Linked DNA regions of Homo sapiens. The protein of the gene in region 2 interacts with the protein of the main gene of each other region in a pairwise test. Each region holds a gene or a part of one and is shown on either strand. Other genes may lie near its edges.

The links.
Region 1: the proteins of CMTM4 (region 2) and SSX3 interact in binary tests that used the Homo sapiens proteins (3 or more experiments, as listed by UniProt).
Region 3: the proteins of CMTM4 (region 2) and MIDN interact in binary tests that used the Homo sapiens proteins (3 or more experiments, as listed by UniProt).

The regions. Positions count from the first base shown.
Region 1 is NC_000023.11:48,353,568-48,364,357, forward strand, and holds the start of SSX3 (protein SSX3), read right to left. Parts: upstream 3,137-10,790; 5' UTR 3,067-3,136; intron 1,703-3,066; 5' UTR 1,683-1,702; coding exon 1,614-1,682; intron 1,180-1,613; coding exon 1,065-1,179; intron 528-1,064; coding exon 432-527; intron 1-431. UniProt on the Homo sapiens protein: Could act as a modulator of transcription.
Region 2 is NC_000016.10:66,628,867-66,638,945, reverse strand, and holds part of CMTM4 (CKLF-like MARVEL transmembrane domain-containing protein 4), read left to right. Parts: intron 1-2,364; coding exon 2,365-2,541; intron 2,542-10,079. UniProt on the Homo sapiens protein: Acts as a backup for CMTM6 to regulate plasma membrane expression of PD-L1/CD274, an immune inhibitory ligand critical for immune tolerance to self and antitumor immunity. May protect PD-L1/CD274 from being polyubiquitinated and targeted for degradation.
Region 3 is NC_000019.10:1,251,067-1,260,718, reverse strand, and holds the end of MIDN (midnolin), read right to left. Parts: intron 9,158-9,652; coding exon 9,070-9,157; intron 8,881-9,069; coding exon 8,818-8,880; intron 6,766-8,817; coding exon 6,637-6,765; intron 6,553-6,636; coding exon 6,241-6,552; intron 5,818-6,240; coding exon 5,658-5,817; intron 5,298-5,657; coding exon 5,025-5,297; intron 3,725-5,024; coding exon 3,447-3,724; 3' UTR 1,576-3,446; downstream 1-1,575. UniProt on the Homo sapiens protein: Facilitates the ubiquitin-independent proteasomal degradation of stimulus-induced transcription factors such as FOSB, EGR1, NR4A1, and IRF4 to the proteasome for degradation. Promotes also the degradation of other substrates such as CBX4.

The DNA.
Region 1 (10,790 bases), on a different chromosome or scaffold from region 2:
TGAGCTGAGATTGCCTTATTGCACTCCACCCTGGCCGAGAAGAGTGAAACTCCATCTCAAAAACAAAAACAAACAAAACACACTATCAACAAGTCACAGCTGAAGCTGTCTGTGCAGCACTCAGCAATCCCTGCCCTCCCTCCCTCCTCCACTTACAGCCAGTCACCTTAGTTTGATGGCTTTTTATTCACATTCATGTTTGTATACATTTACCATTTACTTATTATCCATAAAAATATATATTCTTCTTTTGCATGTTTTAAAATTTTATATGAATGACCTCTGTAGTTAACTTTCTGCATGCAATTTTTTTTTTCACTCTGCCCCGATGTGTATGAGGGAACAAATGCCTGAGGCTCTTTCCCAGGTAGCTGAGCTGAAAAGCAATTGGGCTTGAGGAGACCCTTTCCAGCCCCTTCCCATCTACTCACCCTGATTCCCACGGTTAGGGTCATTATCAAAATCATTCCCCTGGAAGTCTGTGACCCGTTTATTACGCATGAAAGATGGGAGGATGGCCTTGAAACCTAGAAAGAAGCAAAATGTTTATTCCTTAAGAGACAAGCTTGGGCCTGGTACGGTGGCTCATGTCTGTAGTACCAACACTTTGGGAGGCTAAGGCTGGAGGATTGCTTGAGGCCAGGAATTCAAGGCTGCAGTAAGCTATGATTGCACTACTGCACTCTAGCCTAGGTGACAGATTCAGACTGACTCAAACAAAAAAAAAAAAAAAAGAAAGAGACAAGCCGAGAGAAGGTAGAGTGGGTGTGTGTGGGGTGGGGGTAGGATGGTTGCCGGGATGCCACAGAGACAGTTGGGCTCATCAGAACAGAAGCCTAAGAGAGAGAAACGTGCAGGATCCAGGTATGAGCTCCACTGTGGCCAGTCACTGCCCTCAGCCCTGACAGGATATAGAAGAGCAGAACACCCAGAAGCTGCCTTGCGATTTTTCCCTACACAAAAGGAAAATGTGAGGTACTTTCTGCAGCCTAAGAAATAGCCAAAGCAGGAAAAGGGATGCTCATGTGTCCCCAGACTTGTCTGTACCTAGAACTTTCTGTTACCTAGTTTAGTCATGGCCTCATACTTTCTCTTCATATACACATAGACGATTTTCTCCGAGACTTTCATCTTTTCCCACTCTTCCTTAGAGAAGTATTTGGCAATATCATCGAAGGCCTACAAAAAAAAAAAAAAGGAATTATGGCAGGGACTCAGCTAGGCATGTCTGCCATTCAGCTGGAGTCGCTTCCTGTGTGCTGGATCTGGGAAGTGGGGATAATCCTTCCTGGTTGATGCCACGGCTAACTGACAGAACATGAGGGACCTTCCTAGCTTCACCCCTGCCACACTGTCGGGCTTTAATGCTGCTGGCTGGCTCTCCTCCCACCTTCCAGAATGGACTGAGAGTCACCAAATGTAGTGCAAGGTCACAGACTTGTCTCCAGGGATGCTAGGTGATGACAGAGTGAGGGTGGGAGGCTCCCAAGGGTCCAGATCTCCCCTGAGACCCTGCTCCTTGTCTCCAGTATCTCTGTCCTCCCCTCCTCAGAAACCGGGTCACCCCACACTGTCCCCTGGGTCACTACTCTGCTCCCTCTAGGTCACCTCACCTTTTGTATCTTCTCTGGTATTTGAGCACCAACCGTGGGTCTCCTTGCAAAGGTGTCATCTCCGTTCATGGCACAGGGAGTAGTCTGACCTGCAAGAGAAACAGATTGAGACTTTCCAGCCGCAGGACCTTTGGTCTTGTGGAGGGAGAAATCAGTGAAGGCCGGCCACTCAGTCACCTGGAATCAGGTGCTGCATTTCTCCATCCGGGGCTTATCTGTCCCTGAGTAAGGATATGGGGAGAAATCAGACGAAAACCAGGAACCAGGGGTCTCTGGGAGAAGTATTGATAGGGGATGACAGGTTTCCTATGGGCAAAGCAGCCTTGAGTCTTTGGGAGGGGGTTGGCTAATGTTGTTAGTAATTTCCCTGGAGCTAGGCTTCCCCTGAAAGATGTATGGACCCTTGTTGGGGAGGCAGGGACATGACTGTGTAATTTTATTCAGTGGGGCATGCTGACACCCCCGCTCAATAAATAAAGGAAGGGAAGTTAGTCCCAGAGATAACGTGGTCTCTTTGGTGATGGATCTGATCAGGCAGAGGGATGGGGGGTTCTGTTCTGCTGAAGAGAAATGAGCATCGCTAATATGAATGTGTTCAGAGGCTATTACTGGGTGATTTGTAAGTTATTAGAACGAAGAGAGCTAGAATTTCTGAGACTACAAGAGCCCGCCATCACTTAGAGAGAATGTGGGGCATTTCAAGTTGCAGCAATCAGCCAGGCGCAGTGGCTCAGGCCTGTAATCCCAGCACTTTGGGAGGCCGAGGCGTGCAGGTCACTTGAGCCCAGGAGGTCGAGACCCGGCTGGGAAACACAGCAAAACCCCCGTCTACAAAATAAACAAAAAGTTAGCTGGGGTTGGTGGAGCAGGCCTGTACCATCCCAGCACTTTGGAAGGCCAAGGTGGGCGGATCGCCTTAGCCCAGGAGCTTGAGACCAGGCTCACAAACGTAGCAAAACCATCTCTACTAAAAAAAACAAACAAACAAAATTTAGCAGAAGCGGGGTGGTGCGCGCCTGTAGTCCCAAGGCCTAGGTGAGAAGATCACTTGAGCCCAGCAGGAAAGATTTGAGTGATTTTTTTTTTCAGACAGGGTCTCGCTCTGTTGCCCAGTCGGGAGTGCACTGGCGTGATCATGGCTCACTGCAACCTCCGCCTCTTGGGTTCAGGCAATCCACCAGCTGTGGCTTCCAAAAGTGCAGGGATTACAAGTGTAAGCCACCACCCCAGGCCCAAATTTCTTAAGTTACTACAGAGTTCCTAGGAAAAATCCCATACCTGAAAAAGTTAGAAACTGACAGGAAAGATTTGAGATGGCGGTTAGAAACTGACAGGAAAGATTTAAGATGGCGGCCTGCCTCATATACACTCCTTATTAAAACTAGATAGCAAATGCACCACGGAGGAGGGGAGGGGTAGGAAGAATGGAAAAAGAAAATCAGTGTATTCTTACTCTGATTTTGGAAGAATCCAAAGAGAAAATCAGACCGTGCGTACTCTTGAGTATGGAAGAATCGAAAGAGAGAGAAAATCAGAGCATGCGTACTCTGAACTTAAAGTAGCGAATCCCAGGGGATGCTTTAGGCGGGAAAATTAGAGTCTCCACCCCCACTTTGAGAAGGTTGTGTCCCTGGAGCCGGGACTGATAGAAGCCACATCCGCTTCGCTTGTTCCGCCTACTGTTCTGACTTCTAATTGGCCAGATGGAGTTCACTAACTGCCCTGATTGGTCCATCATCCTTGGGCAGCGACATTGCAGAATAATGTCTCCTCCTCCAGCCACACCTTGTCGCCACTGCGAAAAAGTGGGTGGTCCTCAGGCGCCGTCAGATTTTGATCTCTCTGAAGACTGTTCCTGGATCTTGGGTTAAAAATCTGGATTCTAGTCTGAACTGTGGGAAGAAAAAAATAGTCAATCTGTGATTTTTCTACTTGAAAGCCACAATGTTTTCCAAACTAGCACATTTGCGGAGGTTTGCTATAATTAGTCGTGGAGTTCATTCTTCAGTGGCTTCTATATCTGTTGCCACTGAAAAAACAGTCCAAGGCCCTCCAACCTCTGCTTACATTTTTGAAAGGGAATCTAAGTGTGGTGTGCAGAATTACCATCCTTTACCTGTAGCCCTGGAGAGAGGAAAATGTATTTACTTATGGGATGTGATTGTGGTATTGGTTACATCTGCCTTGGCCAATCCTCCCGCCTCTGTCTCGGGACTACAGGCGCAAACCACCCCACCCCCACTAATATTTTTTATTTTTTGATTTTTTAATAGAGAAGGTTTTGCTGTGTTGGCCAGGCTGGTCTTGACGTCCTGGGCTCAAGCGATCCTCCCACCTCGGCCTCGGGACTACAGGCATTCACCACCCTGCCTACGCTTTTTTTTTTTTTTTTTTTTTTAAGTAGAAACCAGGTTTTGCTATGTTGGCCAGGCTGGTCTCATTGGCCAGGTTGGTCTCATCGTCCTGGGCTCAAGGCATTCTTCCACCATGGCCTCGAGACTACAGGCATGCACTACCCTGCCTACGATTTTTTTTTTTTTTTTTTTTTTTTTTTTAGTAGAAACCATGTTTCCCTATGTTGGCCAGGCCGGCATCAAGCTCCTGGGCTCAAGGGATCCTCCTGCCTCAGGACCGCAGCCACGCACCACCCTGCCCAAGCTATTTTTTGTTTTGTTTTGTTTCGTTTTAGTAGAAACCAGGTTTCGATATGTTGCCCAGGCTGGCCTCAATCTCTTAGGCTCAGATGATGCTTTCATCTTGGCCTCAGGACTATAGGCGTGTGCCATTCTGCCCTGCTCATTTTTATTTTCATTTATTTATTTATTTATTTATTTATTTATTTTAGGAGAGGCAGGCTATCGCTTTGTTGGCCAGGCTGGTATCAACCTCCTGGGCTCAAGCAATCCTCCCACCTTGGCCTCAAAACTACAGGAGTGAGCCACCCCACCCACGCTATTTTTTTGTTGTTCTTGTTGTTAGTAGAAATGGGGTTTCACTATGTTGGCCAGGCTGGCCTCAACCTCCTAGGCTCAAGCAATCGTCCTGCCTTGGCCTCGGGACTACAGGTTCACACCACCCCGCCCCCACTAATATTTTTAATTTTTCTACTAGAGACAGTTTCGCTATGTTGTCCAGGCTGGTCTCTACCTCCGGGACTCAAGTGATTCTCCCGCCTCGGCCTTGGGACTACAGGCATGCACTACCCTGCCTTTTGCTATGTTTCCCAGGTTGGTCTTGACCTCCTGGGCTCACTCAATGATTTGAACCTGGGAAGCCGAGGTTGCATTGAGCTGAGATCACACCACTGCACTCCAGCTTGAGCGACAGAGCAAGACTGAAAAAAAAAAAAAAAAGAAAGAAAGAGCAAGAGAGAGATCAGCGGAATCTCCGTAAGAACAGGGAGCTTTGTGGTATTTTAACTTACCCTTGTCCCATCTCGTGCTCCCAGCTTGGTTCTGTTCATTGCTGATGAAATACAGATAGGATTGGCCAGAACTGGTAGATGGCTGGCTGTTGATCATGAAAATGTCAGACCTGATATAGTCCTCCTTGGAAAGGCCCTTTCTGGAGGTTGATACTCTGTGTCTGCAGTGCTGTGGGATGATGGCTTAATGCTGAGCATTAAGCCAGGGGAACATGGGTCCACATACGGTGGCAATCCACTAGGCTGCTGAGTGACCATCGCAGCCCTTGAGGTTTTAGAACAAGAAAATCTTGCTGAAAATGCAGAAAAAAAATGGGTATTATCGTGAGAAGTGAACCCATGAAGCTACCTTCTGATGTTGTAACTGCCATAAAAGGAACAGAATTATTATTATTATTATTATTTGAGTCAGAGGTTCACTCTGGTTGCCCAGGATGGAGTGCAATGGTGCAATCTTGGCTCACTGCAACCTCTGCCTCCTGGGTTCAAGCGATTCTCCTACCTCAGCCTCCTGAGTAGCTGGGATTACAGGCATGCACCACTATGCCCAGCTAATTTTTGTATTTTTAGTAGAGACGGGGTTTCGCCACGTTGGCCAGGCTGGTCTCGAACTCCTGACTTCAGGCGATCCACCCGCCTCAGCCTCCCAAAGTGTTGGGATTACAGGCGTGAGCCACTGTGCCCGGGAGGAAAATAATTATTAAATGCTATTGTTATTAAAGAAACCATAGACTGTAATGCTTGGGAGGTGTGTCTATGACTTCGAGATTATGGACTTCTGGCCAAGCCCACCCATGGTGACATCATCAGGTTTCGCCTCTGCTGGTGATCAAGGAGGATGAGATTCGAGAGTCCAGTGAAATCATTAACAAGACCATCTTGCCGTTCTGAGGGTAGCAGCTGTTTTCAGTGGTTCCTGGGAGCCGGCTGGAGACAGGTGGTCCTGTAAAAGCTCTGCTCTAAATGTAGGCACATTCCACTCCCATGTGTCTTCAAAATCTTTTTGTGTATATATGTTTTTTCAGTTGATACATAATAGGACAATGTTTATGAACCTGACATTTGCTTTGTAGTGTTAAGAGAATGTAATGGCATCTATATTCAGTGAAAGTGTTTTGATGTGCACGTGTACTTTATAAGGTGAAATGCATCTGTATATACAGACAGCCTTTAAATCACATCCTTCAGTATACTTTATATATGCTTTTATAATTTCCTTGCTGGTATAAAGGTTTTGTATTTGAAAAAGATATCTCTAGCGTATTACATAAAAGGCTTCACCTTATAAAGTCAAATCATTGTTTTCATTGAATTTTAGGAACGATCAATGGTTAAGCATATAAAAAATACTAGTTTTTTTGTTTTGTTTTTGTTTTTGTTTTTGTTTTGAGACGGAGTCTCACCCTGTCACCCAGGCTGGAGTGCAGTGGCTCGATCTCCGCTCACTGCAAGCTCCACCTCCTGGGTTCACGCCATTCTCCTGCCTCAGCCTTCCGAGTGGCTGGGACTACAGGTGCTCACCAAAACGCCTGGCTAATTTTTTGTATTTTTAGTAGAGACAGGGTTTCATCGTGTTAGCCAGGATGGTCTCGATCTCCTGACCTCGTGATCCGCCCGCCTCATCCTCCCAAAGTGTTGGGATTACAGGCGTGAGCCACTGTGCCCGGCCTATAAAATACTAATATTAAGTAAACTTTATATTGACCAACACCAGGATATAGTCTATGGATGTCATTATTTTGAATTAAGAATTAGTGTTTAACATTCCTAAATTGTTTTGAGTGCTTGATTATAATTTGTAAAAAAAAGTTTACTTTTAATATTTCTTTACATTTTAAACAAAGCTTGTATTTCAGAAAAAAAAACAGACAGAACATGGCCGGGTGCAGTGGTTCACGCTTGTAATCCCAGCATTTTGGGAGGCCGAGGTGGGCAGATCACTTGAGGTCAGGAGTTTGAGACCAGCCTGGCCAACATGGAGAAACCCCGTCTCTACTAAAAGTACAAAAATTAACCAGGCATGGTGGCACCCGCCTGTAGTCCCAGCTACATGGGAGGCTGAGACAGGAGAATAGCTCAAACCCAGGAGGCAGAGGTTGCAGTGAGCTCGAGAGCGTGCCACTGCACTACAGCCTAGGAGACAGAGTGAGAATCCCTCTTGAAAAAAAAAATGTACAGTACATTTTCATCACCGCAATGCTATCCCTTGTGCTACTCATTTTTAGTAATACTCTCCTCCCATCCGCCATCCCTAATCCCTGGCAACCACAAATCTGTTTTTCGTTTCCACAATTTTGTCTTTTCTACAATGCTGTACAAGTGAAATCTTATAGTATATCATGTTTTATGGGCTTATTTCACTCAGCATAATTCCATGGAGATTTCTCCAAGATATTGATATTTGTGTATCAATAGTTCATTGTTGTTGTTGTTGAGACAGAGTCTCACTCTGTCACCCAGGCTAGAGTGCAGTGTCTCGGCTCACTGCAACCTCTGCCTCCTGGGTTCAAGCAATTTTCCAGTCTCAGCCTCCCGAGTAGCTCTGACTACAGGTGCGCGCCACCACACCCGGGTAATTTTTGTATCAGTAGTAAAGATGGGGTTTCAACATACTGGCAAGTCTGGTCTTGAACTCCTGACATCATCATCCGCCTGCCTCGACCTCCCAAAGTGCTGTGATAACAGGGTGAGCCACTGTGCCCTGACAATAGTTCATTTTTATTGCTGAGTAGTATTCCAGGGGATGGATGTAGCACAGTTTGACCATTCACTTATTTTAGGACATATTGATTATTTCCACCTATTGGCTATTACAAGTAAAGCTGCTATGAACAATTATGTACAAGTTTCTGGATGGGCATACATTTTAATTTCTCTGAAGTGTAATTGTTGAATTGTATGGTCATTGCATGTTTAGTTTTATAAGAAACTACCAAACTGCTTTCCAGAGTGGCTGTAAGATTTTACCTTCCCAGCAGCACTTAATAAGGTGTCCAGTTTCTCTGCATCCTTGTCACCATTTGGTGTTGTCACTATGTCTTTTATTTTAGCTATTGTAATAAGTGTGTAGTGATACCTCATCGTGGTGTTATTCTGCATCTAGTGAAGCAAATGAGTGTTGAACATCTTTTCATGTGCTTATTTGCTTATTTCCTCTTCAGTGAAATGTATGTTCATATCTTTTCATGATTTTCTAACTGGATTATTTGTTTGTATTTTTTACCATTGAGGTTTTTATTATTTTTTTTTCTTGAGACAGAGTCTTGCTCTGTTACCCAGGCTGGAGTGCAGTGGCACGATCTTGGCTCACTCCAACCTCCGCCTCCCAGGTTCAAGTGATTCTCATGCCTCAGCCTCCAGAGTAGCTGGGATTACAGGCACGCATCATCATGCTTGTCTAATTTTTGTATTTTTAGTAGAGATGGGTTTTTTGCCATGTTGCCCAGGCTGGTCTTGAACTCCTGGCCTCAAGGCATCTGCCCTCCGTCCACCTCGACCTTTCAAAGTGCTGGGATTACAAATGTGAGCCACCACGCTCAGCCTACTGTTGAGTTTTGAGAGTACTATACATATCCATTACATATTCTGGATGTGAGTCCTTTCTTGGATATGTGGTTTGCAAACATTTTCTTTCAGATCATACCATATTTTTTCATCCTTCTAACAAGATTTCTTGCAGAGCAAAAGTTTTAAATTGGATGAAATCTAATTTATTTTTTCCTTATGTATTATGCTTTTTGAACCATTCACTATGCCCTAGATCTCAGACGCTTCTCCTATATTTTCTTGTAAAACTTTTTTTTTAGTTTTTTTGTTTGTTTGTTTGTTTTTTGAGATGCATTCTTGCTCTGTTGCCCAGGATGGAGTGCACGATCTCGGCTCACTGCAAGCTCCACCTCCCGGGTTCACACCATTCTCCTGCCTCAGCCTCCCGAGTAGCTGGGACTACAGGCGCCTGCCACCACACCTGGCTAACTTGTTTGTATTTTTAGTAGAGACAGGGTTTCACTGTGTTAGCCAGGATGGTCTCGATCTCCTGACCTCGTGATCTGCCCACCTCGGCCTCCCAAAGTGCTGGGATTACAGACGTGAGCCACCGTGCCCGGCCTTTTATAGTTTTATATTTTAGATTTAAATCTATGATCCACTTGACTTACTTTTTTGTATAAAGGTGTGAAGATTAGGCCTTTTTGGTTTTTTTTTTTTCTTTTTGGCCTATGGCTCTGCAACTGCCCCAGCATCATTTGTTAAGCAGATGATCTTTCCCTATTTTTGTCTCTTGGTAAAAAATCAGTGTGGGGCTATTTCTAGGATTTCTATTTTGTTACAGTGATCTATGTGTCTATTTTTCTCCCAATAATATATAGTCTTGATTCCTGTAGCTATATAAGAAGTATTGAAATATGGTAGAGCAATTCCTCCCACCTTATTCTTCTTTTTCAAAAATTGTCTTAGCTATATAAATATTTTTTGAGATGGAGTCTCACTTTTGTCGTCCAAGCTGGAGGGCAGTGGGGTGACCTCGGCTCACTGCAATCTCTGTCTACCGTGTTCAAGCGGTTCTCCTGTCTCAGCTTCCCGAGTAGCTGGGATATCAGGTGCACGCCACTACACCGGCTAATTTTTGTATTTTTAGTAGAGACAGGGTTTCGCCATGTTGGCCAGGCTGGTTTCAAACTCCTGACCTCAAGCGATCTGCCCGTCTCAGCCTCCCAAAGTGCTGGGAATACAGGTGTGAGCCACCGGGCCCAGTGTTGTCTTAGCTATTGACAATTTGTTACAGCAGCAATCAAAAATGAATACACTTAGAAATAGATTAATTAGTGAAACAAAATAATAAGTCAAGAAACAAACTAATTTATATACAAACTTAAGCATGCATTTCCAAACAGTGGGCAAAAGATGGGTTGTGTAATAAAGGATTGTTGACAAGTGTCTATCCATTTGGAAAAATAAACATTAAATCCTTACTTTCAACCACATAAAATAATAAATTCTAAAAATTCAGAGACTTAAATGTGAAAACGTGAAGTCATAAAGAACTAGATGAAATTTTAGGAAAATATTACAGTGTAAGACATCTTGAGTTGGCATAGGCACTTCCTGATATTACACCAAGGCTATAAATAATGAATCTGACATATTTAAAGACGTAAAAATTAAAGTATCATCTAAGTCAAAAGACACCATAAAAAACTGTTTAAAAAGGCAAATATTAGGCCAGGCACAGTGGCTCATGCCTGTAATCTCAGTACTTTGGGAGGCCAAGGCGGGCAGATCACGAGGTCAGCAGATCGAGACCATCCTGGCTACCACGGTGAAACCCCGTCTCTACTAAAAGTACAAAAAATTAGCCGGGTGTGGTGGTGGGCGCCTGTAGTCCCAGCTGCTCGGGAGGCTGAGGCAGGAGAATGGTATGAACCTGGCAGGAGAATGGCATGAACCTGGGAGGTGGAGCTTGCAGTGAGCCGAGATCGCACCACTGCACTCCATCCTCGGCAACAGAGTGAGACTCCATCTCAAAAAAAAAAAAAAAAGGCAAATTTTGGGGAAAATGAAGCATCCCCAATAAATTAACAGTAACCATCTCTAATATATAACAAAGCGTTTCCATATCAATAAGAGAAACTGGAACAACCCAATGAAAAAATGTGTTCAGGCATGGCACTACTTTATCATATAGCAGAAAAGGATTACAAAACAGAAATTACGAAAGGAAAATAATAAAGGAAGTGGAGAAGAGATCCAAGAAC
Region 2 (10,079 bases):
CATACTTACCTTTGTTTTTTTTTTTTGTGGTGAGAACATTTAAAATCTACTCTGTTTGTTTGTTTGCTTTTGTTTTTGTTTTTTTTGAGATGGAGTCTCACTCTGTCGCCCAGGCTAGAGTGCAGTGGCACGATCTCAGCTCACTGCAACCTCCGCCTCCCGGGTTTCAAGTGATTCTCCTGCCTCAGCCTCCCAAGTAGCTAGGATTACAGGCGCCCACCACCATGTCCATCTAATTTTTGTATTTTTAGTAGAGACGGGGTTTCACCGTGTTAATCAGGCTGGTCTCGAACTCCTGACCTCAGGTGATCCACCTGCCTCAGCCTCCCAAAGTGCTGGGATTACAGGCATGAGCCACCACACCCAGCCTAAAATCTCCTCTCAACAATACAATGCAATACATTGTTGTTGACTAAGTCACCATGTTGTACAATAGATCTCTTGAACTTATTCTTCCTGTCTAACTGAAATTTTGTATCCTTTGACCAAGAAGACCCATGTCTTTAATGTGTTGACTTAGAAAAGACCACATATTGTTAGGAAAGAGGTTCTGTGTAGAAGTATTGACAATGGGAAAGGCAGAACCACTCTTCCATTCGCCTGAAGACACTGACCAGGCAACCAGGAATTGTAGATGTGGGTTTTCTAATGGCTCATTCAGCCCCCATCTGCCAGCTATGTGAAAGTTACTGTGCTTGGTGCCTTGGGGGTAGATGGGGATGGACTACCCTGCCCCCTAAAAGCTCCGGAGGCAGAGGCTGCAAGATGGTAAGGATAGAATGCAATCACAGATGAACCAGCTTTCCTGGGAGAGGGTGGGATAAGCTGATGTCTGGCAGGGAGAAGCAGTCAGGGAAGACATGGGGAGGAGGTGGCGGCATCATCAAGTGGAGCATTGGAAAGCATGAGTAGGACTTTCAGCAGGTGGAGAAAGGCCCCAGAACAGCCCGTGCCTTGGATGCTGCTGGCATTTTAATCATCTGAAGATCTCATCAGAAAGCAGATTCTGATTCTGTAGTTCAAGGGGAGGAAGCAGAGATTCTGCATTTCCCACAAGCTCTAAAGGACAAGTCTCTAGAGGACCACAGAGCTGCCTGCCTCTGCTTCCTTGACTTTTGAGGTGGAGGCCAGCCTGGAAGCAGCGGCATAGGCTTCAGATGCCACTGAACTGGGCGGAGCGGGAGCCTGAGACTGATCTGGCTTTAGGTGCTCGAAACCTTTCTTTGATCACAGGGCCATTAACTCCGCCTTTGGGCCTCCTCCTTCTCCTGAAATCCCCCTTTAAAAGTTCACTTGGTAATTTCTATCAATATCTATTTGATTTTATGATCTATGAACTCTTAGGACATATTGCCAGAATGGTACTTTGGTCCTTCAGAAAAAAATTTATTCTTTTTTTTTGAGATGGAATTTCGTTCTTGTTGCCCAGGCTAGAGTGCAATGGCGCGATCTCAGCTTACTGCAACCTCTACCTCCCAGGTTCATGCGATTCTCCTGCCTCAGCCTCCTGAGTAGCTGGGATTACAAGCATGCGCCACCACACCCGGCTGATTTTGTATTTTTAGTAGAGAGGGGGTTTCTCCATGTTGGTCAGGCTGGTCTTGAACTCCAGACCTCCGGTGATCTGCCAACCTTGGCCTCCCAAAGTACTGGGATTACAGGCATGAGCCCCCGTGCCCAGCCTAGAAATTTATTCTATTATTGGTAGATTTCTTAATGTTTTTTAATAAGCTGCCATCTTGTTGTGATCAAGTTCAAAAAATATATTTTTTAAAACCATATGAATTAATTAGGTGCGCCTCTTGTTCCCACCTAATTGGGGGAAAAGGAGATTATACCAATCATTGTTTTAAAGCCGTCAGGAGTCCCAGTTAACCTGTGTGACTTTAGCAGGAGCCACCAAGGTAACTGCAGATGGCACAAGTCAGACACCATCAGAATTCTGCTCTCCCAGTGTTTGGGATAATTGTGGTAGAGACCATGAATTAGAAACACACATAGGCAACACCCACTTACTTATTGGTGGCAGGAGAAGACCTAGAAACATTGTAGAGATGTTTCTGCTTCCTCCCAAGGGCCAGCAGTTTACACCCGGGGGCCACATCACACCAGATTGATTTCAGTGTATGTGGTGGGGCCTTCACTGTTTACATTAGTAATTTGATCCTTCCATTAAGACCCCTGCACCTATTCTTTAGGTAAGAATTGAAGCAGGTCTGATTTCCGACAGTTACACTGCTGTCCCAGAGGAAAACTCAGTGGCAGTATGTTGTTGTTCAGTGTTATATAAGCATGGCAGGTACGTATGTCCGCAGATGTATACTAAACATATACGTACATATATGTTTCCAATTTTCTTCCTAGATCTTGGCCCTGATTGCATTCATCTGCATAGAGACCATCATGGCATGCTCCCCGTGTGAAGGCCTCTACTTTTTTGAGTTTGTGAGCTGCAGTGCGTTTGTGGTGACTGGCGTCTTGCTGATTATGTTCAGTCTCAACCTGCACATGAGGATCCCCCAGATCAACTGGAATCTGACAGTGAGTACAAGCGGCCACTCTGGCCATGAAAGGATCACGTGCCTGTTGGCTCCAAGGAAAAGCTGGAATCTCTCCAGGTCATGTTTGGTTCTAGTTCATTTTGATCCTTAAATATTCTATTATAATTCAACTGTGAAATTTTAAATTTCTTTACTGGGTTAAGTAAAACTACAAAATAAACTGAATCTTAACTAATGGGAGAAACATCATAACAATTATTTTGGCCACCTTAAAGATGTCATTTCAATTTTGCAATCATCTGAGAAGACTGGTCATGTTGATATTTGGAGAATATGGGAAATAAAATACAGTGTAGACATTTACATACTTTTCAGACTGGACCTAAAAGCCATTTATAAAAATATTGATTCTGGAAGAATTGAAAATATGAATGAAAATGCCAGTAACTTACAGAGCCTAGGAATATTATTAAATTCAAAGCAACTAGGAGGACCTGGGGGGGTTTGGTGGTTTGATCAGAAAGTCTTGAGTGGAAACCTGCCCCTTCTCCCCATGGTTTGGGTTCTTAGCTCTGTTTGGCCACCCTTGTTAATCAGATGGGAAGCACAGGGCTGGTCAGTCCTAGACCCCCTTTCCTAGACTGTGTCCTTACTGTGCTGAATGAGAAGAGGATTTTAATATCATTTGGTTTTCTTGATATTTATTTACAAATTAGCATGTGCAAGAGCTCAAAGGGAGTCAGTCAGGGAGATCCACGTAAGCACAGTCGGCTGCCTCACACTGCTGTGCCTGTGGGATGAGAACGCCGTGGGCACCTCAGCTGCTGAGGGGGAAGCAGGAGGAGAGCGCCTCAGACCAGCTACCCTTGCCTGAGATTGGGAGCCACACAGAAGCCACACGTGGCTCTGTCTGTGTTTGGCTGCTGCTGGGCCCATGAGAAAGTGTGGGCCCCAAGGAGGAGGCTGGAGCTGCCACCTCCCTGTCAGGGCTGCTCTCCTGGTGTGCCCTGGGTGGGGAAGGTCCTCCTTACAGGTGCTCTCTGGGTTGTCCTAACCAGCACAGACTCCTAAAGGAGGAAAAAAGGAGAGTTGCTGATCTAGAAAAGTAGATATCAGTTGAAAACTTAGCTGTTTTTTGTCTTAGCACTGGAAGCTGAGAAAAATGTGGTGGTATTTTAAATTTAAGCTCTAAAACCTCAAGATAACTAGAAGCATTTTGTCTGAGTTTTTGTGACAGGTTGTAATGTCTCAACTATTTTTAAAATGAGGTTTATGTTATCCATAAGAAAATGCTTACAGAGCATGTAGTAGACTGTTTAAGAGAACTTTGCAAACCTCCCCCAGTTAAAATGCTCATACTATGGATGCAGGGTCAAGGTCAAGGTCAGCATCTTGTTCATTGCTATCCTACTTGCCTAGTGTTCCTGAGGCCTGTCAATAAATACTTGTTGAGTAAGGGGCTGGGCTGTGAAACCCTGCGGGAGGACCTGTTTGACAAAGAAGCAGCTGCTGGAAAGGTTAAGACTATAGGCATTGAGTCAGACAGACCGAGCTGGGTTCAAGTCCAAGGTAGCTGCTGAAACAGGCTGTGCATGACCCTGGGCTAGTCACTGAGAGCCCTACATTGGTGAAGTGTCAGCACTGGTAAAGTGGAGATAATAATTTTTTTTTTTGCAGGGTTTTTTTTTAAGTATAAAATGAGGTAATGGGTGTAAAGGCATCTGGTAAGGCCTCAAACCAGTGGGCGCTGTGGCCAGTGCAGCAATGTTCATCTCACCTGAGTAAGAGGTGTCCTGGCACGCTGCTGTTATGTTACCCACACTGTTCCCCTGTTTACTTCCACCAGGTTTGACTTGACCCCCTTAATTCTGTTTTGTCCATTTATCTGACAGCCATTAACCTGTTAAAAGACTTCATGCTTCAGATTTCTTACTAATTTATACCAGCGTTTATCCCCAGAAATACCTACTTTTTGTTGTTTTTGGGTTTTTTTTTTTGTTTTTTTGAGACAGAGTCTTGCTCTGTTGCCCAGGCTGGAGTGCAGTGGCGTGATCTCGGCTCAATGAAACCTCCGCCTCCCGGGTTCAAGCGATTCTCCTGCCTCACCCTCCCTAGTAGCTGAGATTATGGGCATGTACCACCATGCCCAGCTAATTTTTGTATTTTTAGTAGAGATGGGGTTTCACCATCTTGGCCAGGCTGGTTTCAAACACCTGACCTCAGGTGATCCACCCACCTCAGCCTCCCAAAGTGCTGGGATTACAGGTGTGAGCCACCACACCCAGCCCAGAAATACCTATTTAGTGAGCTTTCTGGAATTCTGCTTTTTCTATTTTAATCATGAAAGATTTTCCACTTGTTGACTACCACACTACCATGTCACCGGTCATGTTGAGGTGCATCTCTCCCCAGGGAAGTTGATACTCGTTCTTTTCCTCTGGGTGGTGGTGGCCTGGGCCTGTGGTTGGGTGTTGGTGATGTGGTCACTTGAGAACACGATCCTGTTCTTTGGGATCCGTTCTAGACTTTCCACTCTTTTGGAGCAGATAAAGGCTGTGTGTTTGCCCAACAAAAGGGCATATACCTTACATGAACTTGAGGAGATGGTACCTTTTTTTTTTTTTTTTGAGATGGGGTCTTGCTCTGTCGCCCAGGCTGGAGTGCAGTGGTGCGATCTCGGCTCACTGCAACCTTTGCCTCCCGGGTTCAAGTGATTTTCCTGTCTCAGCCTCCTGAGTAGCTGGGATTACAGGCATGTGCCACCGTGCCCAGCTAATTTTTGTATTTTTAATAGAGACGAGGTTTCGCCACGTTGGCCAGACTGTTCTCCAACTCCTGATCTTAGGTGATCTGCCCACCTCAGCCTCCCAAAGTGCTGAGGTTACAGGCGTGAGCCACTGCACCCTGCCAAGATGGTATCTATTAAAGGCAGCTCATGTCCAGTGTTCTCTGAGAGGGGTGAAAAAGTGAGCTCCTCACGGCCGATCTCAGCTCATCAACTCGCTACAGAAGGGTTGGCCTTGGCTGTGTTGTGTTTCTGTAACAAGGTGGTGGGAGTATTGGGAGTATTTTTGTCTCCAGCAGAGCCAGCCTGATGGTTAAAATAGGGTGTGATTGGTATAGATTTAAAAACACAGGTCATTCCAGGAGCCCAGGTTGACATAAATATGGATGAGAAATGATAAATAAGGAGGACAGTGCATAATTTTCTACAAGCATAATTTGATGGAATTTGAATGATTCTGTTAATGTCAAGTTTTTGGTTTGGGTTTATTTTTGGATGGATTGTGGGACTTTGATATATATATATATTTATATATATATATTTATATATATATATATTTATATATATATATTTTGAAACGGAGTTTCGCTCTTGTTGCCCAGGCTGGAATGCAGTGGCACAATCTTGGCTCAACGCAACCTCCACCTCCCAGGTTCAAACGATTCTCCTGCCTCAGCCTCCCGAGTAGCTGGGATTACAGGCATGTGCCACCACACCCGGCTAATTTTTTTGTATTTTTAGTAGAGAGGGGGTTTCTCCATGTTGGTCAGACTGGTCTTGGACTCCCAACCTCAGGTGACCTGCCCGCCTCAGCCTCCCAAAGTGCTGGGATTACAGGCGTGACCCACCGTGCCTGGCGATATTTGTTTTTCTCTGTGTCCTAGGAGCTCATACACTCACATGTTCCACCCCTGTTTACTTTGATTAGTGCCACGGGGCTCCTCCTTTCCTCCCCTTCCCTTCTGGGATGTGGCGCTATCTAAAAGGCGTGTCTGATCCTCCCCCATCCCAAAAGCCTGCCAGTGGCTCCCACTCAACTGGCCCCAGAGCCCAGGGCCAGCTCAGCCCCACTTCCCAGAAGAGGAGGTCTGCACTTGCCTTCTCTACTTCCCCCTCTCCTAATCTCACTTTTCTAATCTCTTATTGTCAAATTCTGAAAAAATTATGAAAGTAAATATGGAGTTTAATATACAGCCACCACCTGGGTCAATAAATAGGAGATTGTCAACACCCCAAAAGCTTCCCATGTGTATTTTCCAGCTAAACACACCCCCTGCCCCTTCCCCCAGTCCACCATCCTGACTATGTGGTGGTCTTCCGCAATTCATCTTCAGCCCACTCCAGTCTGGCAGCATTGAAAGTCCCCTGGTCAGGAGCCTGGGACGGGGCCTCCGTGTTCCTAGATCCTCTGGTTGCTCTTGGGTTCTCACCCCACTCAACATCCTGGTGGTGTCTGCTATGGGGCACTCTGTCCTTCCTGCCATACTCTCTCACCTTGCATCCTGGGCCCCCACACTGTCCTGTTTTTCTTCTTCCGCTTTGGTCACCCTTTCTTAGTGGGCTCTGTGGCCCTGGAGGCCTCTTAGGCCTCTATCTCAGAACCCAGGCTGGGTGCTGTGGTGGGTTGAGAACAGTTGGCAGTTACCCACAGGGGCCACTGGCTGAGCCCTGAGCCCTAGGGCGTGACTCGTCTTGTGTTTTTTTATTTTATTTTATTTTATTTTATTTTTTTATTGATCATTCTTGGGTGTTTCTCGCAGAGGGGGATTTGGCAGGGTCATAGGACAATAGTGGAGGGAAGGTCAGCAGATACACAAGTGAACAAAGGTCTCTGGTTTTCCTACGCAGAGGACCCTGTGGCCTTCCGCAGTGTTTGTGTCCCTGGGTACTTGAGATTAGGGAGTGGTGATGACTCTTAAGGAGCATGTTGCCTTCAAGCATCTGTTTAACAAAGCACATCTTGCACCGCCCTTAATCCATTTAACCCTGAGTGGACACAGCACATGTTTCAGAGAGCACAGGGTTGGGGGTAAGGTCATAGATCAACAGGATCCCAAGGCAGAAGAATTTTTCTTAGTACAGAACAAAATGAAAAGTCTCCCAAGTCTACTTCTTTCTACACAGACACAGCAACCATCCGATTTCTCAGTCTTTTCCCCACCTTTCCCCCTTTTCTATTCCACAACACTGCCATTGTCATCATGGCCCGTTCTCAATGAGCTGTTGGGTACACCTCCCTGACGGGGTGGTGGCCGGGCAGAGGGGCTCCTCACTTCCCAGTAGGGGCGGCCGGGCAGAGGCGCCCCTCACCTCCCGGACGGGGCGGCTGGCCGGGCGGGGGCTGACCCCCCACCTCCCTCCCGGACCGGGCGGCTGGCCGGGCGGGGGGCTGACCCCCCACCTCCCTCCTGGACGGGGCGGCTGGCCGGGCGGGGGGCTGACCCCCCACCTCCCTCCCGGACAGGGCGGCTGGCCGGGCGGGGGCTGACCCCCACCTCCCTCCCGGACGGGGTGGCTGCCGGGCAGAGACGCTCCTCACTTCCCAGATGGGGTGGCTGCTGGGTGGAGGGGCTCCTCACTTCTCAGATGGGGTGGCCGCCGGGCGGAGGGGCTCCTCACTTCTCAGATGGGGCGGCCGCCGGGCGGAGGGTCTCCTCACTTCTCAGACGGGGCAGCTGGGCAGAGACGCTCCTCACCTCCCAGATGGGGTCGCGGCCAGGCAGAGGCGCTCCTCACATCCCAGACGGGGCGGCGGGGCAGAGGCGCTCCCCACATCTCAGACGATGGGCGGCCGGGCAGAGACGCTCCTCACTTCCTAGATGGGATGGCGGCCGGGCAGAGATGCTCCTCACTTTCCAGACTGGGCAGCCAGGCAGAGGGGCTCCTCACATCCCAGACGATGGGCGGCCGGGCAGAGGCTGCAATCTCAGCACTTTGGGAGGCCAAGGCTGGCGGCTGGGAGGTGGAGGTTGTAGCGAGCCGAGATCACGCCACTGCACTCCAGCCTGGGCACCATTGAGCACTGAGTGAACGAGACTCCGTCTGCAATCCCGGCACCTCGGGAGGCCGAGGCTGGCGGATCACTCGCGGTTAGGAGCTGGAGACCAGCCCGGCCAACACAGCAAAACCCCGTCTCCACCAAAAAATACGAAAACCAGTCAGGCGTGGCGGCGCGCGCCTGCAATCCCAGGCACTCGGCAGGCTGAGGCAGGAGAATCAGGCAGGGAGGTTGCATTGAGCCCAGATGGCAGCAGTACAGTCCAGCTTCGGCTCGGCATCAGAGGGAGACCGTGGAAAGAGAGGGAGAGGGAGACTGTGGGGAGAGGGAGAGGGAGGGGGGAGGGGGAGGGTGAGGGGGAGGGGGAGAGGGAGAGGGAAAGTCTTGTGTTTTTTTTTTTCTGACACCAAATACATTTTCCACACCAAGCTGTTCTGTAATCCTTTGACACTGACTGGGTGTTTAACAATTCCGTTCAATTCTGACACTAACTCTCGGAGTTAGCACAGATCCCACAGACGAGGGCCCAGTCCCACAAGATGGCCCCACTTTAGACACCAGCTGCAAAAGGGGTGCCCAGGCACTTCTGTCTGGCTGAGTACAGATTCGATGGTTTCCACCACCCCTCAGGTTCAGTCATTTTCTGCAGTGACTCACAGGACTCAGGAAGGGGCTTTACTTAAACAATTACTGATATGTTTTAAACGATACAACTCAGGAACAGCCACATGGGAGAGATGCATAGGGTGAGGTCTGGAGGGCCTCAGATGCAGGAGCCTCTGTCCTTATGGAGTCAGAATGAGCTCCACTCAGAAGCTCCCCAGACCCCATCGTTCAGGTATTTTTTCTGGAGATTTCACTAGGTAGGCATGACTGATTGGCCATTTGGTGATTGAACTCAATGTCCAGCTCCTCTAACTTCCCTGGAGGTCCAGGGGATGGGGCTGAAAATTCCAACTCTCTAATCACCTGGCTGGTTTTTCTGGTGACCTGCCCCTATCCTGAAACTGTCTACCACCCTCTTCCCACAAAAGTCACTTCGTTAGCATAAACTCGGGTATGATTGAAAGGGACTCATTATGAATAACAAAAGATGCTCATATCACTCAAGAGATTCAAGGATTTGATTAAATATTTTTCATTATAGCACACTCATTCTTTCTGGGACCCAGTTTCCTCATCCATGAAAGTAGAGCAAAATAACAAGTCCTGTCTTGTGGGCATTTTGGATCATAATTAGGTTAGAATTCACTGGGAGCGATATGATTGGCACAGTGACTCCATAGATGGTAGCTGCTACTGTCATCAACATTATAATTGTCCCTTTGATCCTGGGGCCATTCAAGCACAAGTGAGTGCAAAGGATGGGTCGAGTGCTTGCAAACGTTCTTGTCTCCTGGATGGATAGGACAGAGGCTAGAGCCAGCCACCTAGCACATTGGTTTGGGGGCCAACCAGGATTGCAGTGACAGCCCCCAGCTGATTCTGTGTACAAATATTTCATTTGTGATCAGTTCAGCCTTGATTTGTTTCATGGCCCAGGAACTCAAGTGCTTGATGCTGACTTAAGATTTGCAGTATTCCAGTATTAAGCCTTTCAAGTTGTGTGAGTAATAAGTGCTTATTGTAAAACAAAACAAAACAAAACAACAAAAAAACCCCAAAAACTAGAAGATAATAGATAATTTAAAAAAAATCATCTGATGACCCAAGAGAAATGAAAACTTGTTCACACAAAAGCTTGTAGGTTCATAGCTACATTATCTATAATAACCAAAAAGTAGAAATAAATGTC
Region 3 (9,652 bases), on a different chromosome or scaffold from region 2:
CTTCCCTACGCACACTTGGCCTCCGCCTGCCGCCCCTCCGCCCGCTGCACCCCTGGTTGGGCTGACCCTACCAGGCCAGGGCTCTGAGCCTGGAGCTCCATACCCCACCCCACGCCCCCAGGGCACAGCCTTGACCCCTGGGATCCCCAGTCTGGGGTGGGGGTCGGCATCCCGAGGGGCGGGTCCTGGAGTGCAGGGGACGCGCCCCCCACCCTGCAGGCTACAGACACAGCCCCTGTGATTCAGCAGGTGCTTCAGACAACATCCTCCTTCCTCCTTCCCACCCCGCCCAGCGAGGGGGCGGTGGCGCCCTGGGGCCCTCGCCTTGACCCCAGGCCTGGCGTCGGTGACCCGCACCCCCACCCTGAGCCCCGAGGGGACATCCGCACCAGGGACGGGGCGGGGGGTGGGTGCCGCCTGACTGGGCATCCGCCTTCCTGCCGTGGGCGTGCGATGATTTGGGGTTGACTGGGCGTTGGGAGGGGCAGAGGGGTCTCAGGAAGGTGCTCCCAGGCCACTCTCTGAACCTGTGCCCCTTCCCCTGGGGGCTCCCGGTACTGGGGCCCCTAGAGATGGGATAAGGGGTGGAGGTCACATCATTGAACAAACACCCCAAATCCTCTGGGCCAAGTGATGTTCCTCTTTGGGCCTCTGTTCTCCCATCTATAAAATGGGAGCCCAATTACTTCTCATAGGCAACTCTTGTTACCTGAGGAAATACAGGTTACAAAATTTAAAAAAAGACATGAAATAGTGTTATTGCCTCATCTCTGCCCAGCCCGGACATGGGTGGAGGTGGGACCCCAGAGAGGACTCAGTCCTGGTGAGGCTCACGGGGAGCTCCAGGCTAGGGACAGAGAGAGGGAAGGGTGGGGTCTGCGGGACGGGGTGGACAGGGGTGGAAGGCGCAGGCTGGGGAAGTTCCCAGACAGCAAGGGACAGCCGGACCAGGGGTGTTCCTAGACAGGGGGCAAAGGCCGGGAGGTTTGGAGCTGAAGGCCAGGTCTGGGAAGGGCTGGAATGTCAGGAGGTGTGGCCAGAGAGGCCCCCCAGGGCTGGGTCAAGCCAGGCCTGTATCACCTGCCAGCCCAAGGTACCCTGCGGAGTCCTAGGTCCTCCCAGTCGGCCTGGTGATCTCCCTGCAGCAAGCCACACAGATGTGAGACTCCAGGAAGGGGAGCAGGTGGGTGTGGCAGAGTGGGAGTCCCCGACTCCTGTGGCTGGGGAGAGCTGGTGGTCGCGTCTCCCCCATACTGGCAGGTCCTGAGGGGGCCAGGGTCCTGCCCAGGCCACGAAGCAGGCAGGCAGGCCCTCGCCCCACACCCTAAGGGACTTCCGGCCTTGGGTACCAGGAAGTGGCTGGGCTCCTCCCTCCCACCCTGGCTGCTTCCTGCCCACCCGGCAGCCGGGGAAGGAGCGTGGGAAATTCTCAGGGCCCTGACCCCTGCCCCACCCCCTCTTCGGGGCCTTGGGACCCAGGTCAGTCCCTCTGACTCCCTGAGCTGACATCCCACCCCAGGAACCCTCCCAACCAAGGCCAGATCCCCCCACTAGGCGAGCAGGCGGGAGTCAATGTGTGTTTCATTTTCTGTTTATTACTTGAAATCACGGTGCTCGTGTAGGTTTTTTTTTTTTTTTCAATTTTATGTTTTCATACATGAAACTCACGCCAGGTGCCGGGACCCCCACAGCCCGACCCCCCGAGGGCGGGTAATGCTTTCTTGGGCAGCCCTTACCGGGCAGAGGGTGGCGAGCCGGTTCCTGCCTGGAGGTTCCACCCTCAACCAGTGGAGGCACAGACGTTATTTAAAAATCGTTAAAAAACAAAACAGAACACACATTTAAATAGGTATCCAAGACAGTTCTTCAAAAAACAAACCCGCCCCTTTTACTCCTTTTTTTTCTATTTTTTTTTCTTTTTTTTTTGGAAAAATGAAAACAAAACAAAACCCAAAATCCTTGAGCTCTACCCTCTGGGACCCCTCCCTGCCCACCCTCCCACAAAAAAATTTACAGCGCTACAGTTATAACACGTGATGTTCACATCTGAAACCATTAACTTTCAACACATAAAGGGGGGGAGTTGAGGACCTGGGGTTCACCTACGAGAACAACGGTGGGGGACAGGCAGAGCCAGGACAAGACCGACAGGTGGGGTGAGGAAGGGTCCAGACATCTCCATTATCATTAAAAAATAAAAAGTGAGTGGGGAAAAAAATCCAAAAACTACCCCATTGAAATGGCCCCAGTAGGGGATTTGTCCCTCCCCTCTGGAGACAGACACCCCTAGGGCAGGGGCACTGAGAGGCAGGGGGTCCAAATTAGACCAGCAGCGGACCCCGCCACGGGGGTTAATGCTACACGGAGTTGTCGCCCCCTGCCCAGGGGATTCACAGCTCAGCACCCCCTCCCATCCTCGCTGCAGGAGGGGCCCCCAGACAGTCCCAAATCCACATCCCTCAGGTTGGGCCGGGAAGGAGGGCTCGGAGGGGGGAACTCCCCAGCACCCAGCCATTCTCTCCCCTTTTTCAAGAGTTCCCCAACCACTATTGGCTCAGTCAGAAAATTAATAGTCTATAAATACCCCAAACTCAGGCAGGAGGTCAGAAAACACGGGAGTGGGGGCGGAGGAAACAGCACAGTCCGCCGGCTGGGGCGGGGCGGAGGGCAGGCTGGGGGGGTAGTTCCCCTCTCCCTTCCCGACAGGAAAGGGTGCCATGCCCCTGCACCCAAACCCCATGGGGACCTCAGCCCCAGCCTCTGCTAAAACAGCTTTGCTCTCCTTGTTAAAGAAATGAAGGAAAATGCAAAAAAAAGATCAAGAAAAGAGGATAGGAGTGGAAGAGAAACAGTCCCCTCGTTGGCTTCTGTGACCTGTTGGCTTGCTGTAGCCCAGTGGGCGCTGCTGGCCTGGGGTGGAGACCCCGAAGTCTGCACTGGGGGGTGGGGTGGGTTCTGCGCACTGCGGCCCCTCCCCTCATCTGTAAAGTGCATAATGACATATCGACATTTTTGACTTAAAACCTGAATAGGGTCGGGGGGGAAAGGAGGCGGCGGAAGGGATGGGGCGCGTTTCTCCGTCTCCTTCACTCTCCGCCATCCAGAGAGACTGCTACATATTGGAGCTGGGGAAGGTTGGCAGGGAGGACCGACCTGGCGCAGAGGTGAAAGGAGACAGACGGAGGAGGAGGAGGAGGAGGAAGAGGAGGGCAGGAGTGAAGGGTGAAGGAGGTAGGAAGCAAAGCCCATGAAGAGTCCAGGAAACCACGGTCAGAACTTTTTAAAAAAAGAAAAAAATAATAAAAAAGAAGAAAAGAAAAAAAGACTTCTGGCTGGGGGAGTGGCCGCCTGCCCTCCAGGGCTGGGCCACGTTCTCTCCGGGGCTCTCGGAGTCCCCGCCGCCCTGGGCTGGGGTGCGAGGGGCGAGGGTGGCCGATCCGAAGATCCTAAGCCACCACGAACTCTGACTTGATGTCAGGGTTGACTTCTGGCTTCCACACGGAGTCCTCGAAGTCGAGGCCCAAGCCGGAGGCCTCGCTGGGGCTGCCGCCGCCCCCGCTGCTACTGCTGTCGCTGCGGCCGGCCTTGCGGCTGGGTGACCAGTGGTACGGACCCCGCGCGTCCCGCCGGGCCTTTCTACGGAGCCGTTTCTGCTGCAGAAGCAGCTGCAGCCGTTCCACCTTGCAGCGCGTGGCGCGGTTTTCTGTCTGCCGAAGCCGGTCCCCTGCAAAGGAGGTAGTGGCCTGTGACTCCCAAAGCCTCCACCTGCTGAACACAGAGGACCACCCCAGACCCCAGCAAATGCCCCTGAGGTCAGACACAGTCCTGCCCTCCCTGGAGGGAGGTCAGCAAAGGAAACAGTCAAGGACATCCACCATGCCGGGCACAGTGGTTCACGCCTGTAATCTCAGCACTTTGGGAGGCCGAGGCAGGAGAATCGCTTGAGCTCAGGAGTTCGAGACAGGCCTGGGCAACCTCAGGAGTTCGAGACAGGCCTGAGCCACAGAGCGAGACCCCTCCTCTACAAAAATTACAAAATTAGCTGGGCATGGTGGTGTTTGCCTGGAGTCCCAGCTACGCAGCTGGCTTCTAATTCTCCAGCTCAGCCATGAGCTGGGGAGGTCAGGACTGTCCTGCCTCATTCTTCCTGGAGTCCTACATGGAGGGGGCTTGGCCGCTTCTGTGATCCGAGGGGAGATACTTGGGGGTTGTACCTTGGTTTTTTTTTTTTTTTTTTGAGACGGAGTCTCGCTCTGTCGCCCAGGCTGGAGTGCAGTGGCGCGATCTCGGCTCACTGCAAGCTCCGCCTCTGGGTTCACGCCATTCTCCTGTCTCAGCCTCCCGAGTAGCTGGGACTACAGGCGCCCACCACCACGCCTGGCTAATTTTTTGTATTTTTAGTGGAAACGGAGTTTCACCATGTTAGCCAAGATGGTCTCGATCTCCTGACCTCGTGATCCGCCCGCGTCGGCCTCCCAAAGTGCTGGGATTACAGGCGTGAGCCACCGCGCCCGGCCAGTTTCCCACTTTTAAACTGAGCTGGGAGGAGCCCCCGCGACGGGTGCAGAGCCCAAGGGCAGTACAGTAGCCATCTTCTGGTGAGACTCTGGAGGGAGTAACCCGCCGTTTGGGAGTAGCTGGGGCCAGGCTGGCAGGGGGGTTGTGTTCGCTGCTTTTCCAAGTCACTGAAATGCTTAGGGGTGGGCTCTGGCCCCGCCTCGGCCTGCCAGGCCTGACTTGGCCATTCACAGAGGCACCAAATGCCATCTGGAGATGATGCCCCGGGTGGGGGTGGGGCAGGAGGAAGTGGGCCTGTGGCCCCCCGGGAGCACACAAGGACACTTTGTGCCCTGACACACATGCTGCCTTCTCTCCGGGCTGGAGCAGAGCAGTGGCCACGGCAGCTGCCATCCCCCCCAGCCCCTGGGCAGGTCAGCTGCTCCTGAGCCCACCAGCTCACACAGAGGGGCCTTGAGAAGCCCAGGCGGGCGGGGAAGGTAGGACCCCCGAGGGTGGCCACTCACCCGGGGGCTTGCACATGCGGATCTGGCTCTGGCCCTGCAGCAGGGAGGCTGAGGGGGCAGCCGTGAGCTTCTCGCAGGAGGTAGTTCTGGGGGCCAGGTCGGGGGCCGGTGAGGCCGGGGAGCACTGGGCGTGGCAGCGGAGCTGGGCCAGCGAAGGGGGCATGCCCTGGTAGTGCCGGGTGGCGCTCAGGAGGTCGTTCAGGATCTGCAGGATGGTGCCGATGTCACGCCGCGGCCGCCCGCTGCTGTCTTGGCAGTTGGGGTGTAGCGTGCCTGCGGGCAGAGGTGGCCGTGAGTGCCCGGCACGGGCACAGTCCCGCATGTCCAGGACGGGCGTCCACGGGTGTGAGCTCATGAGCTCAGGCAATGGCGTGGACATGTGGGCTGATGTGCACGAGGGACCACGGGGCGGGAGCGGGACACGTCCCCAGTATGCAGGCGCCTGGTGACCCGCGGCCCCCCGGGCAGGGCCAGGCGTGTGTGTGGGGGATTCCTGGGGGACATGTGAAGTGAGCAGACGGACACAGCCTGTGTATGCCCAGAATATGTGGAGTCGCCTGTGGGTGGATGTAGACCCCAAATGCACAGGGTCACGGGACACACGTGAGCTCACACATGTGCTGTGACACCTACCAGAGAAGGTCCCTGAGAAGACCCCCGGGGCGTGATTCACAAAGCTCTCGATGACGGCGCCGGGTTTTCGGGAGCGGGGGGCAGGGCTGGCCCCTGGGGTAGACGTGGTGCTGGCACCAGGACTGGCACTGCTGCTGGCCGTGGGGGAGCAGTCCATCTGCTGATGGGAGGAAGGGGCACATGAGCACGGGGTCCAGGATCAGGGGATCACCAGCAACCCAGGGACCAGAGATCACCCACCAGCCCAGGTCAGGAGATGACCTGTCAACACAGGGTTTAGAGATAAACTAGCCCAAGGTCACGAGGTCACAACCAACCCAGGACACAGAGATGACCCATGAGTCAAAGATCAAGAGATCATCTACTGGTCCAGGTCATGTCAGGCGATGACCGTCAACTCAGGATCTAGAAATACCCCACCAATCTAGGCTGGGGGATCACCCACCAGCCCGAGGTCACAGGATAGCCCTTAATACAAGGGACTCACCTGGGACTAAGAGTCCTTGTCCTCCCCAAGACCTCCCCAGGACGGCCCACCCTTTGGATTCCAACCAAGGGTCACCCTTCCCTTCCCCAGGCTCACCTCCGGGCAGGTGGTGGAGGCTGCGTGGGACCGGAAGGAGCCGGCTGTGATGGGCGAGGGAGATGCAGGGGACGGGCTGGTGGGCACCGGGGGGACTCGGGCGGCACTGGACACCGGCCGGCAGGGCGAGGACACGGGGGAGGCTATGCTGGGGTCCCCCCGCGCAGCAGCGGCGGCGGCCGCAGCGGCCAGCACATGGCGGTGTTGCAGTGGAGCGTGCTGGGCCGCGAGCTGCAGCTGCACGAACATCATGTGGTCGCCCACACGCAAGGCCAGTGTCAGTGGCGAACGGCCCGACAGGAAGTCACTGACCTGCAAGGAGAGCGGTCCGTCAGCTGGGAGCCCCAGCTTGCGGCGCCCCCAGCCCAGCCCGGCCCAGTCCCCCCGCGCTGTGACCTGGGGCCTCTCGCCGCCCCTCTCTGGGCTCTGGGGTCCCTGTCGGTGCCACGGACGCTTAAATAAAATGAATCTGTATTTCCGGAAGCCTCCTCCGCCAGCCCGGCCCGGCCCGGGCGCCGCTGGGGGCTGTGGGGACAGAGGCGGGTCAGACGGGGGCCTGCCCCTCCCTGGCCAACTAGGTCGGTCTTGCAAGGGGAAACTGAGGCCAGAGGGGGCGGGGCCCAGCTGGCAGTCACTGACCTCAAACAACCTTCACTTTGCCTTTCCCCCACCCTCATGGGCCCCTAGATCCTCTCTGCCTGTGGATACGGGAGGGGCTCCACCTCAGGCCCCCTCCCAGCTAAGTCACCAGGGCCAGCAAGTGGGTGGAATTCCTGCACGAATTCTTCTGTCCTAACCTTTGCTTTCTCAAGATAAATATTTATCTGTCCTGGGCGGGGCGGAGGCCTAGGGGGCTGTGGCAAGGCTGCAGGAAGGGGCCCTGACCGCCCTGGGGCTGGAGTCCCGGAGGGCACAACCTGCTCCAAGCACAGAAACCCTCAATCTGCCCCCGTTCAGGGTGGGTGTGGGTTGAATCTCACCCTGTCCTCGCCAAGCCCCCTGCTCTGGGTATGGGCCAGAGCCCTGCTCTCCCCAGTGGCCGGGATGGGGGGGGGGGTGGCGGAGGTTTCTGAGAAGTGACATAGGCTGGGATGACTCAGAACCGACCGCCTCCCAGCTCTCCCTCCCGGCTCTCCTCTCCACTGGCAGTAGCTGGCGTAACCTTCTCTGCTTGGGGCCCATGGGGAGGGAGGCAGGGAGGAGGGCAGGGTGAAGCCCCCACCCTGCGGCCCAGCCTGCCCGGCCCCCTACCCCCCTGCCCCAAGACAGCCTTTGCAGGAAGGGCCCGGGGTGGCTTCCCGAGAGCAGCTGGAGTCCCCACCACCACCCGCCCTGCAACTTCCTCCCTGGGGAAGGCTAATGGGCGGGCATGACTCGGTGCCAGGCAGGGAAGCAACCCTGGGGAGCCCAGTGTCTCCGCCCAGCACCCCCTCCAGCCCCCCCCAACCCAGCTCCTTCCTGACGCAGGCGCCCAGGGAGGAGGGTGTGAAGCCAACACGCCCTGGGCCCCCTGCCAACCGCAGCCCCCCAGCGGCGGGGAGCTCTGCTCACACTCGCCCCAGGAAATCACCTGCAGCCCCCGCCCTGGCTCGGGACCCCGGCTCTGCCCCCACGCCACTGCTGCTGCTGCTGTGGCCACCCCCATGGCAGACCACCCAGCTCCCGGCCCCCGCCCTGCCCCCGCGATGTAGGGAAAGGGCAGGACTCTACATGCCGCTGGGAAAGCGGAAGGGGGTGCGGGCCTCGGGGCCAGGGAGGCCCGGGAAGCCGGCCACCCCTTGCTGGGGCGGGTGGCAGCCTGCGTCCCCCACCCTGGCAGCGGGCGGATTGCTGAGGCCTGTGTCACCCTCCTGGGAGGTGGCCAGGGCCCTTGTCTGAGGAAGGCTTGGCCGCAGCCAAGAAAATGAGGAAAGAAGGAGAAAAAAAAAAAAAAGTCCGCAGCAAAACCGGGAACCGGGTGAGGGCCAGCCCCAGCCTCCCTCCTGGCCGCTTACTAAATATTTTCCTAACATCCTGTCTAGGCCTCACTGGCCCCAGGGCTGGGCACCCCCGCCCCCTCCCCTTTCGGGGTAGAGAACAAAGGCCAGAGAGAGGAGGGGAGGGTGACGAGATCCCCACCCTCTCACGATGGGGGTCACGGAAGGCGGAAGGAGTGTCACCCAAGCCGCCACCCCCAGCCCTCAGCAGAAATGTAAAAAAGGAGAAACTCGCTCTGGGGAAGCCACAGCGGCTGGAGGGGGGCTCCTCGGTGGGGGCGGAGGGGGCTGGGGATGCAGGCCAGGGTGTGAGCGGGGATGAGGCCCCATAGGCCAAGGTCATCCTGCAGGCAGTCTTGTGAAAGCCAGGCCCCCTTCCCCCAGGGCAGCCACCGTGGGAGAGAAAGCCCTCCGGGTCAGGTGGTGAATCTTGGGGGAGAGGAGGTGGGGAGGCCAGGCCAGGCTGGCACCCAGGCGGGGTGGCGCGTCCCCTCCCCTCCCCCAGCCTCCTGGGAGCACAGACAACCCCCAGGCCCCGTCGGTGGCCAAGGCACCCTGCTCCCAGGGCTGCCCTGTTAGGAAGGGGCTGGCGAGGTCTTACCTGCGTCTCCGTGAGACTCTCGAGAGCTTGCATCACGGACTGTTCCGGCCTTGAGGCCTGAGACTACAAAGAGAGGGAGGAGAGGGGCCTGAGTGTGGGGTCGGAATCCTGGGCTGGAATAGGGGGTGGAGAGGGCCCTGCTGGCTGGCGGGGTGGGGGCCCCAGGTAGTGTGTGTGCGGACAGGTACCGAGGGAGGGGCTACTGCCTGTGTGCGGGGGCCTCTGGGGGCACGCAGCCCCATGGCCATTTACCATGAGGCCCGCTTCCACGGTGGGTACCAAGGTCAGCTTGCTGCCATCACCCACGCCGAACTCCTGCAGCTTCCCCGAACTGAGCCGGCTGGGGGGAGGAAGGAAGAGCATGAGACTCCGCGGAGACGACACAGGGACGCGGAAGCAGAGGCCGCGGGGGAGGGCTGTGCTTGTGTGGGGAGAGACGGATAAGTTCCCACCCCCACCCCTTCCCGGCTTCCAGATCCAGGGCCCTAAGCGCGTGCAGAGAGGTCTCCGTCTGGTGCTGGGAGCCCCATCCTGGCGATTCGGACCCCTTCCCTCCAGTGGAACCCCCGCCCTGGACTCTGGCACCCCCTCTGCACCCCAACCAGGCACTTTCTCCTCCTCTGGGCCCCAGTGTGCTCTATGCCACCTTCCCCCACGACCCCAGGGCAGCCCCTGCCCCCAATTCCCTAATTCTAGTCCTGGCTCCTCTTTGTAGGAACCACGGGTTTCGGCCCGAGGAGAGGCCCTGGGGGTTGCGCCGGGCCGGGCTCCCCCTCCTCCTCCCTCCCCGGCGCAGGCGGCCGCCGCCGCGCAGACAAAGGAGACCCTCCCCCTC